Regions from separate parts of the Homo sapiens genome. Here region 1 is linked to region 2. A link means that fine-mapping ties the variant in region 2 to the expression of a gene that starts in the linked region. Tissue or cell type: whole blood. Region 2 holds a variant in brackets; the other region holds the start of a gene. All regions are shown on one strand. Distances are between the middles of the regions.

Region 1 (8,101 bases), 98 kb before region 2:
ACGCACGAAGCAGCTGCCCCACCGTGGCTCAGGCCCAGAAACCTGAGTGGCCTTAGGGTCCCCAGGAGCTATGTCTCTCCAAGGCTTCCCCTGCACCCCAGCTCCATGGGAGTTCCAGGAAGGGGCTCTGTAGTGGGCCGCGCTGGGCGAGGTTGCCTAGGACGCTGTGTGTAATTGTGTGTGTGCGTGCGTGCGTGCATGTGTGCGTGTGTGTGTGCGCGCCTTGCGAAGAGGAGCATTTTTCATTTTTCTTCTTAATCTCTAGCTGATGGCTTCCTTCTCACCTCATCATACCTGTAAACTACTCCACAAGAGGCAAAAAGAAAATCATAGAACGTCTGGGTGTGTGATTTACATTTGTCCCCAATGCTGCCGTTCATTTTGGGGATGGCATCCGCAGGGGTAGCGCTTGCCCCAGAGAGCAGGCCTGCTGAAGGCCCACCCCCTGTGTAATCCTCCCTGTGACTGCTTCAGCCTCCACATTTGAGTTTCTCCAGGGACCCTTACACCAGCCTTGGTGCCTAGGGCAGGCACAGGGCCTTCGGCTTTTCCATAAGGGGTGAGGGTATGGGGACAGCTTCCACGGTGCCAGGCTCTTGGTGACTCGGGTGGAGGCCCTGCCACCCCAGCTCCCTCTGCAGCAGTCCTGGTGTCATGAAGAAGCCTGGCAGTTCCCACTTTGTCTCCAGGTCTTGCTTCTTCCCTTCAGATGCCGGATGGAGAGCAGTGCTCCCCTCGCACTTCGGTTCTGTAAATGGCAGTGGATGAAGACCGCAGACGCTACTGGGTTCACAGAATGTGGCTGCCACCAGCATTCTCCAAAGACTTCCCCTGGCAAATGCCAATGAAATGAAGGGGAGCCACAGGCTTCCCAGAGGCTCAGGAAGCAGAAACACTGAGGCCTGGTTGGAAAGAGAGCTGTAGGCAAAGGAACGGCTGCAAACAAACTGGGTGGAAGGAAAATCCATCCATCCTTCAGAATGCAGTCATGTCTGTATTTTTCTAAATTCTCATTGGGGAACATGTTCTACAATAAGGAAAACATGAGTCAAAGACCCCCAGCCCTGGTGAGGTTGACCGCCTACTTCCTCCCCCATTCAGGGCTGCCCAGCCAGTCCTGCTGGTAAACCCACCACCCTGCCTTCCACCTGCCTGTGTTCTAGTCCATCTGTCTCGTCTGATTGGGATCCTGTGCCATCCATATCATATTCATCCCTGAATCTCAGCACCTGGCTCTGGAAAGAATTCAGTAAATGTTCATTACATAAATTATATACTCAGTTACCAAAATGGGTAACAGAAGAATGGAAATTAAAAAGTGGGTTCTGGCTGGGAACGGTGGCTCATGCCTGTAATCCCAGCATTTTGGAAGGCCGAGGCAGGCGGATCACTTGAGGTCAGCAGTTTGAGACCAGCCTAGCCAACATGGTGAAACCCCATCTCTACTAAAAATACAAACATTAGCTGGGCATGGTAGCACATGCTTATAGTCTGACCTATTTGGGAGGCTGAGGCAGGAGAATCGCTTGAACCCGGGAGGCAGAGGTTGCAGTGAGCCTAGATCACTCCACTGCCCTCCAGCCTGGGTGACAGAGTGAGACTCTCTCTCAAAAAAAAAAAAAAAAAAAGAGTGGGATCTGTCTCTTAGGTTTTCAGAAAGGCCAGCTGACTCCATTGAGAGCTGCTGAGTGGAATTGCTACCATTTTATGGATGTGGAAAGTGAGATTCAGCATAGATCAATGCCTTGGCTAGGGCAGGATCATGGGCTTTTTCCTAAAGATGCACAGGGTCTATAAGAGGCCTCATGAAATTCACTCCTTTCAGGGGAGGACCTCCAGAGAACCAAGGAAGAAGATATTTTCTGTTGTTGTTGTTGTACCTTGTAGTCACCAAGCCTTAAAAACACAGATCACCTGATGACCTCATGGATGGAAAATGCTAGTGAATTTAGGTGTTTTTTTTTTTAAGACATTAAACTTATCTAGCTTTTGAAAATTTAGCATTCATACTTGTATTCAATAAACAGAATACTCTAAGACATTTTTAAATTCAATATGATTAGATAAATGTGAGAAAGGTAAGCAAGAATTGGTTAGGAAAAAGTGCAAAGGAAAAAAACGTAAGTAGAAAAAGAAAAATAGGGCACAGTAGCAAGGAAATATCTAGAAGGAGGAAAGAAGGCTCTTGGGACATACTGTAGGTTATTTGGAATGCAGAATTCAAAAGAAGTAACCTCTTGTTACCATGCTGTGAAAAATTAGTATTTCTCTTTTTAACCTTTAGACTCTGTTTCAGGTAGATCCCTGAGCTCACTCTTTTATCCTTTCAACAGTAATTGGGCATCCTACGGTGCACAGGATACCATGTGGGGCTCTGGGGTAGAGGGATGCTGTGCTCCAGGGCCCTCCTGAGGTCAGGAGGGGAAAAGGCAAGGGAAGCAGCCCCAGGACTCAGTAAGATGAGAGGAGGCAGGAGCAGCACAGAGGAGGACCCCAACCCAGCTGGGGTGCGGGTACAGAGGCACCTCCAGGAGCAGGCACTCAAGCTGAGTCCAGGGTGGGGTGGAGGGCATTCCACCAAGAATGAATAGCAAGAACAAGGCTGCAGATGACCCTGCACAGATTCCAGCATCAGGGATTCTGGCCCCCAGCGTCCCTTTCCTTGGTGTATGCTGCTGGAAGACAGGAGGGGGCAGTTCTCTTTTGGTCCTTAGAAATTTCCCTATAGACATCCCTTCTCCTGCCCCTAGCAGCTTATAACAGCAGAAGGCCATTCAATTCTGCTCCTCTGGCTGGAAAGCAAACATCAGCCTGGCTTACCTTCGCTAGCCTGCCTGACCCCCAGCCTTGGGGTGGGGCTAGGTTAGTGCCCTGGATCCTTAAACATGGCCCCTGGTAGCACATAAGCCTCTGCTGCCTCCACAACCAGCCATCTCCATCATGCATGGCCTGGTCCTGAGCCTCCCCTCAGGCAGCAGCCCCAGCCTCTCTGCTTCCTGAGATTCAGAAACAGGGATCCCAGGGCAGGGCTCAGGGCCCAGCCTCTTGGGGGCACAGTCTCCAGCAGGGAAGAGGTGGGCGTAGGTGGACAAATACATTCCCTTCTTCTTGTAGTGTGCCCCTGTGGGTGGGAGTGCCCCCCGCCCCACATCCACCCTACCTATGCTCATGCCCACTCCTCTGTGCCCACTACTGGTGGCAGGGCTTGCTTAGCAGGGAAGCAGCAGAGCCCTGCAGAGGGGTGGGCAGAGCCTCCCTTCCAGGAGCTGGGAGAAGACACCTGAAGCTGGACAGAGCTTTATCTGGGAGCCGGCGGCTGCTGAATAATGAATTCCAACTCTGCCGCACTCCCAGGCTGCACATTGGGTGCACACACACACACACACACACGCACACACCGATACACACACGCTGGGCTGACAACTTGGAGGGGCGGGGGCTGTGAGGCTCTGTGAGTCGCTGCAGGAGCAGCTTAGCTCGGCTTGGTTGCCTTGGTCTCTGTGGGCAGCATCGGAGGGGGGTCGGGAGGAGGAGGAGGAGGCAGCGGCAGAGAAGAGAGAGGCGTGTGAGCCGTGCTCCACCGGCTAGCTCCTTCCCGCTGCTCCTGCCTGGCAGTGCCAGGCAGCCCACACCAGCATGGCCTTGCTCATCCACCTCAAGACAGTCTCGGAGCTGCGGGGCAGGGGCGACCGGATCGCCAAAGTGACTTTCCGAGGTAGGGAAGCCGCTGTCTCAGAGGGACGCCAGCTCTGAGAGCTGGACCAGCCCATGCTCTGGAGGTGGCCGGGGATAGGACAGGGCTGGGAGGATGGGTGGGAAAAGTTCTAGCAGGGGCTGGGGCGACGAGCCTTTTCACAGGTAGTCATCTGCCTGGGACTGACTGGCCATTGTGATTTCTGGAAAATCAGGGTCCCCTGTTCTTCCATGCCTGTGTCTCCTTGTGCTTGCCAACATGCCAGTTCCCCGGGCAGGGCACAGAGCCCTCTGCCTGGGGAGGCAGAAGTGAGGACCACATCCCTGAGCTCAGGGAGACCCAGGACCCCCTCCTTCTCTCTCTCTCCCTCTCCTGCAGGTTGATTTCCTTGAGCACAGGGTGGGGGCCGGGTATGGAGCCTGGGGCACCCAGGGTGACTGGGAGAAACCAGGCAGCCAGTAGCTCCCTGGGCCCCAGAGTGATGGGGGACACTGTTGGCTTCTTTTAGATCTATTCATGGGCGGGAACCCCGGGAGCCCCTCGCCTCTCTTCTGTCTGGTCTTTTCTCATCCTTTTCACTCCTGTATTCAGCGACCATTTATTATGATCTACTGTGTCCCAAGGATAGGGGTAGAAACACAGAGCTGAGCACAACCCAGCCCCAGCCCCAAGGAGCCTGCATCTGTTGGGCAGGCGTGGAACAAGCAGGACAGGTATGTGAGACAGAAGGTGGGGGTGCAGCATGCAAGCTACAGAAGCAGCACCCTCACCCAGGCTGGTGACCGGTGGTCAGGGAAGGCTTCCCGGAGGAAGTAACACTCAGCTAATACCCGAAGGACCAGCGGGTGGGAGCTAGGAGAGGAGGTAAGGACTGAGGAGGCAGAGGAAACAGTGTGCCCAGAGCTGAGAGAGGAGCTGAAACTCTGGAACTGAAAGAGGTTCCATGTGTCTACAGCTCAGAGAGGGTGCAGGAGCGGAGGCCAGAGAGCCAAGCAGGGCAAGGAGGCGAGGCTGGACCTGACCCCGGGGACAGCGGAGCCCCTGAGCATTTTAAGTGGGGAAAGGCAGGGCCAGGCTGACTCTGTCCTTCACCACCCACCTCTGCCTCTCCATGTGGTTGCTGCCCAGCCCTGAGGGTTGGGGGTACTTCTCACTAGACATGGCCCCTTCTCCCGAGAGAGGGGTCTGAGAGTGGGATGGGGACGAGGTGGTGAGAAGGGGGCAGAGAGGACCCCCCTATACTAAAGAGCAAAGTGAGCCTTGGGGCCCAGGCTGGACACAGTGTCTGCACCTCTGTTGGAAGGGATGGGAGAGACCATTGGCAGAACATTCCAGCAAGAGCCCTGGGGCACCCACATCACCTACCCAGAGGCCCTGGGATGCCCACATTGCAGCTTGTGTTCATAGGGACAGGCAGGGGTGGAGGTGATGGCAGTGGCCCTGCCGGCAGGCGGAGGTTAGGCAGGAGGGAGAGGGAGGTGTGGGCTGGGCTGCCTTTTGCCTCCCACCCCAACCCACTGACTGCTTTCTCTGCAGCACCCTGGATCTCCCTCTGTGTGCCACCTGCAGGCTCATGCTGGCTTTAGAAAAAGCAAATGTGTCCTTTCATCTGTGAAATGTGGCCCTGAGCTCCACGGGCAGCATAGTGTGGGGCGGTTAAGCTACAGGTTGCCATCCTGCTGCAGCTGTGCTGGAACGGTCCAGGCTGCACCGGACAGGCCCACTTGCAGGCCGAGAAACCAAGGTTCAGGGGTAGAACACTGCGCGTGGCATTCACGGAGGAGCTGAGGCACGGTGGTCCCAGCTCTCAGGACCTCATCCTGAGTACTCAATCTTGCAAGCTCTTTATCTGCTCCTGGGCCACCTGGGGGCCAGCACCTTGTCTGACACCCATCTTCTCCTTGGAGCAGTGAAGGGCTGGGCCTTTAGCCTCACTGACCACACAGGAATTAGTTTATTTGCAACCCTTGCTCTCTGGACTGAGTGGAGAAATCGCTTCCAAGCTCCACATTGGCAGGAGGTGGCCATGGGCAGAGCTCCTGGGGAAGGGGGCTGGGCAGCAGGAATAGGCAGATGACAAGCAGTTTCCAGAAAGTACCTTTATTACAACGAAAGATGCCTCAGCCGCTCACCTGTGTCATCTAGCAGTTCACAGTTGTAGGCGCCCCAAAAGACCAACACTGACCACAATTCAGAGGGAATGGACCCGCTCTACAATGTTCCTTAGCATCTCCCAGCACATGCAACCACTGGGGGCCAAGCAAGTCCTCTGCAGGGGGAAACAAGAAACTGGTAAACACGCAGAGGGAGACACTGGCCCCAGGCTCCCCAAGGCTTTTGAGTGAAAGTCAATGCCGGGGGAGGTGGTGAGGGAGCCCTTGGTGAGCTGTGCCCATTGGCAGTGGCCCTAGGTAGGCCAGAGCAGCTGGTTGAAATATGGCTTGACCTTCTGTGCTGTGCCATCCAAGACACTAAGGAAAGAGCCCTCCTGGGCTATTGTGGAAAAAGTTCTGGATATGGAGTCAGAAGCCCTAGATCCTACCTGGGTTCTGCCACTCACCCTCAGTTTCCTCATCTGTAAAATGGGCATGATAATAACACTCACTTCACTAGATTGCTTCAGGGAAACCATAGGTATGGAAGAGTTTGTGGGAAGAGTATTCAAATGGTCGATGTGTTTGTGAGGCAGCCATTCCCATTCTCCTTGGGAGCAGCTGCTGGCCCCTGAGGTATCTTCTCTCCAGACCAGCAGAGGGCCCCATGTGAGATATAAAGGGAAGAGGAGAGCACGTCTAAGGGGTTCCAGTCTGCCAGGAGAAGGCAGAGAGCCTGGACTCTGCTCTGTAGGAGCCTCTGCTGAGATGTTCCGCAGGAACCCAGGCAGGCAGACCCCCGAGACTCCTGTTCTCATCTGGCTGGGTGTGCACCAGCTTTGCCCGTGGCCACCTCTTTTCCCACTGCCCTCAGGCCAGTCGGCCCCTCGGTCAGTGCTCCCAGCCAGTTCTGTATCTAGCTCTTAGTTCTTACTGCCCCTGGCTGCTCCTAAGCTGGTGCTGCCCTGTTCATGCATTTCCTGAACATGCTAATATTTGTGCACAGGCCTGGGACCCTGAGGTGAAGGGGCCAGCCTGGCCCTCCAGGAGTCACAATCCCATTGGGTCAGACAGGAGATAGGGAGTCCTGGGCGAATCTCTATTGTGCCTGCAGGCCACAGGGCTCAGCTGGGTTTCTCATTAACAAAATGGAGACAGTGGTCCTCATTTAGCTCAGAGGCCTGCAGTTCCCAGGAGTAATCAAGAGTGGGCTATCTAAGAAGGAGCCATCTTGACCACAGGTTGCTACTCAAAGAGAGGAAGTATTAGCTTCAGGTATTTCCTTTATCAACTCCTGAGATAGTTCCCTACATCAATCACAGAGCCACAGAACGCAGGGTGTGAAGGGTCCCGAAGTTCTTCTAGTCCAACCTTCTGTCCAGTGCTGAGCACCAAGGCTGGGGGACCTGGACTGTAAGGGAACCAAGTGACAGACAGTCCAGGGCCAACCCTGATGTCTCCCTTCTCTTTCTATCCCCTGAGCCTTCTTGCCAAGACATGAGGTTTGGGGATTTTCTGTGTGAGATAAGAACATCTAAAGGCTGGATCTGGCTTCCACATAATTCACTGTGGCTGGAAATTGGCACAAAGGTTTGCAGGGCATCCCCCTCCACCTTTTCATTCTTACTCTTCTTCCCACCCTCCCCCTGATTCCCACCCTGCTATGTTCCCACTACATTCAACTTCCAGCCATTCCCAAAAGATACCACACCCTTTTACACCTCCAAACTTTGAGACATCGATCATATTTCTTCTGCCTGGAATGACCACCCTCCACCTTGAGAACGCCCATTAATTCTGCTCATCCTTCAAGGCCCAGCTCATATGCTACCTCCTCCATGAAGGAGTAGTACTTTGCACACAAAGTACTCCTCTAGCAGTACTTTGCACACATTCTTCCTACTGCTCTGCCAAGGTACATTGCATTTCAGAAACTGGCCACACCTCTGCATGCTGCCCAAGCTTTTGAGCATCTTCAGGACAGACATCAGACATGGTTTCTGTCTTTGAGGGATTCACTGTGTCATGGGTTTGAGTTCTTCCACTGTGGCACTGTCACTCTTTGGCTCCATTTCCCCAACTGTGAGCTCTCACCCCAGAACTTTCTATCCAAGGAGGATCAAGGGACTGGAAGAGGCCTCAAGGGCCAAGAACCAAGAACCTTGGCTCTTACTCCTTCCATCAACTTCCCTAACCCAGAGAATCTTCTAGGGCTCCAGAGGGGCCTAACGATTTTTTTTTTTTTTTTTTTTTTTGAGTCTCGCTCTGTCGCCAGGCTGGAGTGCAGTGCAGTGCGATCTCGGCTCACTGCAAC
Region 2 (8,101 bases):
GGCTCTCCAGTCAACTTCCCCAAGCAGAGGACCAAGGGCACAGACCTCTCTTGGCCCTGTGGGGCAGCTGAGACCCTGGGCAAGCCACTTCTCCTTCTGTGCCTCAGTTTCCCCAACAGTGAAAAGGAGGTGGGGTAGACAGGTGATGGCATAGAGGCTTCTTTGTGCTCCTAAGTCCCTAGTCCCAGCAAAGGTCTTCTGGTTCTGCTGAGCCATGTGTGCAGCTGAGCCGCCGGCACCCACAGGTCAGAGGAAGCCCACAGACGAGCATGTGGCGCTGTTGGCCCTGAGGCACTGGGAGGACATCCCCCGCGCAGGCTGCCGCCTGGTGCCAGAGCATGTGGAGACGAGGCCGCTGCTCAACCCCGACAAGCCGGGCATCGAGCAGGTGACACTTGCATGGCCAAGACTGGGGTTCTTGGGTATTGGGGACCAGGGATCCCCAACCTGAGTCAGTAAAGGTAGAAGCCAGGCCTCACGCTGTCCGCTGCATTCCAGAAAGCCTGGCAGGCACCTTCCCACCAAGGCCCCTCAGGGTAACTTGAATGGCAAGGGTCTTTGCTTTGAGTGAGAATTACATCAGCTCAGGCAGAGACCTGGGTTGTCTCCCTCAGAAGCTGTGATTGGCTATTGGTGACATCATAGGAATTCCTGGCATCCAAAGATGGAAACTGATGAACTGGGTCCTTGACAGAACAAAGGTTAGGAGGGAGAGGAGAGCTGATCTTCCTGGGCAGAGGGAGAAGGCCCTGGGAGATCTGCCACAACCCTCTTCCTCAGGGCCGCCTGGAGCTGTGGGTGGACATGTTCCCCATGGACATGCCAGCCCCTGGGACGCCTCTGGACATCTCACCTCGGAAGCCCAAGAAGTGAGCGGCCTGGGGCCCAGCGCTACTCCCTTCCGGCCCACCCCACCCACTTCCCACCACGGCCCAACCCTTCCTGCGGGGGGCTCAGGTCCAGATGGCCTTGGCCAGTTGGCATCCCTGGGGCCTGGGTGTGGCCACTGGGCCTTATAGGGGAGAAACTGACCAACCAATCGATAGAGTTTAGGGCCTGCCCTGGAGAGTCCCCACGTGCTAAGGCAGGACAACGCCTTCCACCCTGCATCAGTGAGCGAGACAAGCCCCACACAGCACACTCCGGTGCATTGTATCTACACGGTCTACGCGCCCATACACATGCATCTCATGCACACACACACACACAGCATAGCACTCCCACGGACACCCACACACATGCCCACACTGACGCACTCCTTCACAACACACAGAACCCCTGGGAGCCGGCCCTGCGTCATCCTCACATCCAGGCTAGTGTGATGTTCCGCCAAGTTTTCTTTGGAGTGCCTGCCAGTGATGAATCCAGGAGTGAGTGCCTGGAAGAGGCAGGAGGTGGTAGAGTGAAAAGAACCCGGGTTTCCCATCCATAAAGCGGCAGGTTCAAGTCCAGCTGTCAGACAGTGACTGGATTCAGGGCCAGCTTCAGGGATGGAGGAAGCCACACAGGGTCCCACTCTTGTTTCCATGCTCCTATGTTGCCATCTTGAAATTCTTTATGACAAGTGACCCTGCATTTCCATTTGGCGCTGGCCCCAGCAAATCATGCAGCAAATTCTGCCAGGAATGTCCTGGAAACCTGAGGCCATGAGTCAGCTGTTCCAGGGCCTGTCATTAGGGGGCACCCAACTCACTGGGCCACTCTGGGCTCGCAGCCCTGTCTGCAATCCCAGGAGAGCCATGCTCAGATCAATTTTTAGTGAATGACTCAGCCTCACTCTTAATGATTGAAATGAACTACATCATTCATAATTACAATTAAACCTTGAGGGGAAAATCCTCTTTGGGGACAGGGACATACAGCTTCCATGGGCTTCCATTGCTGGCTACTGGGCTTAAATGCAGACTTCTCTTGGAACTAGCATCTGAGACAGAGGGTGGCTTCCTCCCCTCACCCCACCCCCACCGCCCACAGCCATGTGCCTGGTGGGCCTTCTCACTCATGCCTCTGCTCCCCCAACCCCAAACCACTCCTCCAGCCCCAGCCTGGCCCAGGCCCTGTGCTGACCCCAAGACCCCAGGGCTTCTCTCCGCCTGCCCCATCCCAGCCCTGGCACCCTGGCATAACCCCCACCTGGGGCTGCTAACCAGCCTTCTCTCCCTGGGCCCAGGTACGAGCTGCGGGTCATCATCTGGAACACAGATGAGGTGGTCTTGGAGGACGACGACTTCTTCACAGGGGAGAAGTCCAGTGACATCTTCGTGAGGGGGTGGGTGAGCAGTCCCTGCATGGGAGGGACTGAGCTGGGTGGGGCTTGCTTCCCGGGGGGCAGGAGAGGAGGCAGAGGGAAGGTGGCTGTGGGTGGGAGAGGCCCCACCAGCCTGGCTGCGGGTCTGGAGATGTGGCGCCCACAGGTGGCTGAAGGGCCAGCAGGAGGACAAGCAGGACACAGACGTCCACTACCACTCCCTCACTGGCGAGGGCAACTTCAACTGGCGCTACCTGTTCCCCTTCGACTACCTGGCGGCGGAGGAGAAGATCGTCATCTCCAAGAAGGAGTCCATGTTCTCCTGGGACGAGACCGAGTACAAGATCCCCGCGCGGCTCACCCTGCAGATCTGGGATGCGGACCACTTCTCCGCTGACGACTTCCTGGGTGCAGAGCAGGGCAGGGATGGGGGTTCAGGATCCAGAACTGAGAAGAGGCAGGGGCCGGGTTGGCGGGGACAGGGAGAGCCCTGCCTTGGGGGGACAAGGGGTCATTGCTTCCAGTCCATCAGAGCCAGGGGTGTCCGACGGGGTTCCGCCCCCAAGGACCCACCTAACCGTCCCTAGGCAGATGTTCTCAGTGTCATAACCAGGCTGACAACAAGCTTTGGACACACCAAGGAGGGGGCAGTCAGTGATGATGGGGGAGGGGAGAGGCTCCCTAAGGGAGTCGGGAAACCTCCCTGGGCCTCAGGTTGCTTCTCTGTAAAGCAGGGATTCTCCCTAAAACTCTAATCTGCATCTGCAAAAGCTTGTGGGATTAGCAGGACTTTGACAGAATGGATGCATGGCAGGGAGTGGCAGGGGAGACCCCAGGAGAGACCCTCTGGGGTGAAAGAAGGACCTGAGTAAAGCATGGGGGCTGGGGCTGCCTAGCAAGCCCACGAGGATGCCTGCATTGAGGCCAGTTGCTGGGAGTGAGGCAGGAGGATGAGATGTGGGCTCAGGGAGGTCTGCACTCAGCAAACAAGGGGCCGAGGAGCCCAGACCCCCACCCCCACCCCGCCCCACCCCAGCCCTGTTCACTCTGAGCTGACACTGAGGTTGCCACAGGGGCCATCGAGCTGGACCTGAACCGGTTCCCGCGGGGCGCAAAGACAGCCAAGCAGTGCACCATGGAGATGGCCACCGGGGAGGTGGACGTGCCCCTCGTGTCCATCTTCAAGCAAAAGCGCGTCAAAGGCTGGTGGCCCCTCCTGGCCCGCAATGAGAACGATGAGTTTGAGCTCACGGTGCGCACCCCTTCCTGCTCGGGCAGTAGGCAGGGCTGGGACTGGCTGGGGTGCCAAGGGCCCAGCACGCAGCCTGGACGCTGGGACCTGTCTGTCCTCTGCAGGGCAAGGTGGAGGCTGAGCTGCATTTACTGACAGCAGAGGAGGCAGAGAAGAACCCAGTGGGCCTGGCCCGCAATGAACCTGACCCCCTAGAGAAACCCAAGTGAGTGCCCTGCCGGCCCAGCCCCTCCCCACTCTGGCTCTTGGAGGCGCTGGAACAGGAAGGAGACGATCCCCAGACACCCCATCTCTTCCTGGGCCACAGCCTCATTACAGGGGAGCCTCCTCCCTGCCCTCTGCCAACCCTGAATCCCACAACGTCCCTTTGAACCAGAGGATGGGCTAGGAATACTGGAGAGCAGGACCTTCCCTGGGAAAGGCCCCATCTAGCGGAGAGAAACTATGCTCTTCCCTTCCTAGCTTTTGCAGAAGAGCCAGCTCCAGTGGTGGCCTCTGGGGCCATGGCCAGCCTTGATGGCCAGAGGGGTGCCTAGAACTGCACACACAGCCCAGGACAGCTTCCCTCTTGGTCTTGGCCCCTCGCCACACCCAATCCCTTCTCCTCCCTGTCCCTCCTCTGCGCTCTCTACCCTTCATACTCCAGCCGGCCCGACACGAGCTTCATCTGGTTCCTGAACCCTCTCAAGTCGGCTCGCTACTTCTTGTGGCACACGTATCGCTGGCTGCTCCTCAAACTGTTGCTGCTCCTGCTGCTGCTCCTCCTCCTCGCCCTGTTCCTCTACTCTGTGCCTGGCTACCTGGTCAAGAAAATCCTCGGGGCCTGAGCCCAGTGGCCTCCTGGGTCTGATATTTCTTACTTCTTCCTCTGGACCAAGGGCTAGGCAGGCGCGTGCACACACACACATATACACGCACACATCCACAAACACAAATATGCATACATGTGCACACAAACACACACAAGCATGTATGCACACATGTGCCACGCACAAGTGCATACACATGCACTCAAGCACACACAGGCACACACTTAAGCCCACACAAACATGCACAGCAACTTTCAAGCTTTCATGACAGAATAGACTCTCAGAACTAGAAATGACTATTTTACACTTTTCCACATTAAGCCAAAGAGGTGAAGTAGCTTGCTCAAGGTTACCCAGCAAATTAGGGTAGAGCCGGGACTCAAGCCAAGGTTTCCAAATTTCCAATCCTGTGTTCTTTGCACACCACCTCTGCTCCCAGCCATGTTTCTCCCAGACTGTAACCCAATTTTTTTTTTTTTTTTTTTTTT[TTG/G]GAGACAGAGTCTCGCTCTGTCGCCCAGGCTAGAGTGCAGTGGCACAATCTTGGCTCACTGCCAGCTCCGCCTCCCGGGTTCACGCCATTCTCCTGCCTCAGCCTCCTGAGTAGCTGGGACTACAGGCACCCGCCACCACGCCTGGATAATTTTTTGTATTTTTAGTAGAGACGGGGTTTCACTGTGTTAGCCAGGATGGTCTCGATCTCCTGACCTCGTGATCCGCCCATCTCGGCCTCCCAAAGTGCTGGGATTACAGGCGTGAGCCACCGCGCCCAGCCGACTCTAACCCAATTTCATTGGCAGAAAGAAGCTGAGCTATGGACAGGGAAAAGGGAAGGGTGTGGCCAGGGTTAGCCAACAGGTCTGGAAATGGCTCTCACCCGTGTGTGACCTCCCAGTCCAGGGCTGTTGTTTTCTGCCCTTCAGGATAATAATTCCATTCAACTCAAACATTTCATAGCCACCATGGCCTGAACACCCAACTGCAGGTGCTCAGAGCTCCCCAGGCACTGGCTCACTGTGCCATTGCGCCAAACCCAGGAGGTAGGTACTGCTTGTAACCCCATTTTATACATGAAGAAACCGAGGTTGATAGAGGTGCCTCACTTGCCTGTGAAAACCATTCAAAACCAGGTGCCCTGCACCCAAGCCCCGGCTCTGTGTCCCCACCAATACTGAGCTCAGCTCTGGGGCTGCACGCCATGTCCTCTGGGAGGCAGTAGTTTGAAAATGCATATGCAGTACTTTCACTTGTATCTTGACATTTTACAAAACCTATTGTTTTTATAACACAAACGACAGATAGTGAGGCTGGCCAGGTGCTTCTCGGCTGGGAGGCTCTACAGAAGGTGGAGTGGGTCTTCATCCTGAGAGTGGGCAGGTCGGTGAGGGCAGCTTGCACCCCACAGGGGCTGCTCAGACCCTCAGCAGGGCCCGGTGGGAACAGCCATTTATGTCCATCAGAAAGGAAGAGGTTGTGAAGCACCAGTCTTACCAAGGACGTGGGGCAGCACATAGAACGAGCTAACCGCAGGAGCTTCCTAACGATGAGAACTGCCTGCAGGGCCAAGGCTGCCCCATGCTGCAAGTAGCTCCCATCTAGGCCTTAGGAGGAGATTCGGGCCCCAAAGGTGCTGCAGGGAGGATAGAGTTTTGTAAGCAGCAAGTCGGGTACTTAGAAATGGGTTTAAACCCTGGCTCCAGCATTCACTGCTTTTGGGGCTGGGGCCATGGCAGGGCTTTTGGGGGTCCAGAAGGACAGAGGATGGGGTGCACTGGGAGGCAGCTCCTGCCCACTGGCTGACCGGCTCCTCTCTTCCACTTCCCAGCCGGCCCGACACGGCCTTCGTCTGGTTCCTCAACCCTCTCAAGTCCATCAAGTACCTCATCTGCACCCGGTACAAGTGGCTCATCATCAAGATCGTGCTGGCGCTGTTGGGGCTGCTCATGTTGGGGCTCTTCCTCTACAGCCTCCCTGGCTACATGGTCAAAAAGCTCCTTGGGGCATGAAGGCCGCCAGCTCCCGCCAGCCGCTCCCCAGCCCTGCCGCATTTCCTTTCAGTGGCTTGGACTCTTTCCCATCTCCCCTGGGGAGCCTGAGGAGCCCAGCGTCCACTCTTCATGCCTTGGGCCGAGCCTGCCTCCTGCTTGCGGGGGCCGCCTGTCCTCACTGCCCCAGGCTGCGGCTTGCCCAGTCCCGCCCCTCTGACCCCTGCCTGTGGGCTGGGGAGCCTTGGATGGGGTGGGGACCTGGAATGGGTCTCTCTTGCCCCACCTGGCTGAGGCGCCACCCTTCTTCAGGCCCAGGCTCCAGAGGAAGACTCCTGAAACCCTCCCCAGGTCTTCCAAGTACAGGATTGAAGCTTTAGTGAAATTAACCAAGGACCATGGGTCAGTGCCCAGGGCTTTAAAAAGAATGAACGAGCAAAAGGTATCCCCGCCGTGACCCCTGCAGATAGCACCGGTCTTTGATCCGCAGCAGGGGCCAGACCCTGCCCACAAGTCCCAGCGCGGCTGCTTCTGCCACTGCTGGGCTCCACTTGGCTCCTCTCACTTCCCAGGGGGTCGCCTGTCCTGCCTGTGGGTTTCCATGGCTTCCCAGAGCTCCCTCTGCCCCAGCCAGCGCCTCCAGGCCCAGCTGAGGAGCTGTGAGAAGCAGCAGAGGGGACTCCCCATCCCGGGCACACCCTGTCCTCCCACCCCTGCCCCCTTGCCCTTCCAGCCCTTTCAGCTGCAGCTGGGAGCTGGCCCGTCAAGTGCTGCCCCTGCCTGTGTCTGGGTTTCTGTTGGCTGTTTTTCTTTTCTTGAGTGGTGATTTTTCTCTAAATAAAAGAAGTCAAGCACTGAGCTGACAGGTCTGCACTGGTCAAGCTGAGAGGAGCAGCCGCAGGTGCGGGGCAGAGGCAGCAGTTCTCTAGGCTGGCAGATTCAGTACCAGCAGGGCTCCCATGGCCTTTCCCCTTCAAGTGGCCTCTGGTGGCCCAGGGTTCAAGGCAGGCCTCAGGCACAGGGCTGCCCACCCAGGCTGCCCACAGGAGGAGTCTTACACCATAGCCCAAAGGGCACACCAGCCTGGGCCCAGGGGCCCCCAAAGCACCGAAAGAATCCTTCAGGTCTGGGGCCAGTCTGAAGGCTTAAGGCCCCACAAGGGCCCAAAAGCTCTAGCCTCCACCCACAGAAACCAGTTCCCCTGAAAGCAAGAAAGGAGCCCCACGCTACTGGCCTCGGCCTCTGACTCACACCACTATCTGAGCCTGGGGCAAAGTCCCCTCATGACACAGAGGTAGGGGCAAGGGCCTGGTCTTGCTAGACCTGACCTCTTTAAAGAGATTCAGCCACAACTTTAAAAGGCTTTAATCATAATGCAGGACACAGGTAACTCCTCTGGCTCCTTATTTCGACAGGCTATAAAGACAGCCCTGGAAAATCCAGAGAGCAGGCCCAGGTGCGGCCCAGTGGGTGATATGAGCTGGCTCCGGCACAGACACCAGCATCAGGCCAGCCCTAACACATCAGCCTTTGGCGGTCCAGCTCATTTTGTGGGTACCCGCAACACCTGAGTGGGAGGAACTTGCAGTTCAGAGTTGATCTGGAAAAGAAAGGGTGAAAGTCGTTACATTTTTCCCAGGGCCCTCCTTCTTTGCCACCCTTGCGAGCCACGCTGGCTCTCCCATGGGCCTCCAAAGCCCTGCACGCATCTCCTCTCCAAAGCTGAGAGATGCTGAACACCCACAGACTGCCTCCCTGCAGGAGACACGCCTGAGCCTTCTTGCTCAGCTTCTGCTCCAGCTGTGACCTC

Evidence for each region. PIP is the estimated chance that this variant, and not a neighbour inherited with it, causes the effect.
Region 1: it holds the start of OTOF, and the variant in region 2 is fine-mapped to the expression of OTOF in whole blood (INTERVAL, PIP 0.98).

What each region holds. Positions count from the first base shown.
Region 1 is chr2:26,554,107-26,562,207 of GRCh38, reverse strand. It overlaps OTOF (otoferlin), which reads left to right and starts at 3,452. Exons shown (of 47, transcript NM_194248.3): 1 at 3,452-3,715. The coding sequence starts at 3,637. RefSeq lists enhancers at 2,505-3,297, 3,298-4,091.
Region 2 is chr2:26,456,251-26,464,351 of GRCh38, reverse strand. DRC1 (dynein regulatory complex subunit 1) reads right to left here. Exons shown (of 17, transcript NM_145038.5): 17 at 7,641-7,891. The coding sequence ends at 7,835. OTOF (otoferlin) reads left to right here. Exons shown (of 47, transcript NM_194248.3): 40 at 246-388; 41 at 781-869; 42 at 2,171-2,269; 43 at 2,415-2,656; 44 at 3,322-3,500; 45 at 3,605-3,705; 46 at 4,147-4,344; 47 at 6,132-7,149. The coding sequence ends at 4,327. Among named protein-coding and RNA genes, the nearest start is that of DRC1, 58 kb to the right of the region's middle. RefSeq lists enhancers at 437-731, 301-1,500, 3,186-3,891, 5,580-6,149, 6,150-6,720. The variant TTG/G (reference allele first, on the strand shown) is at 4,798.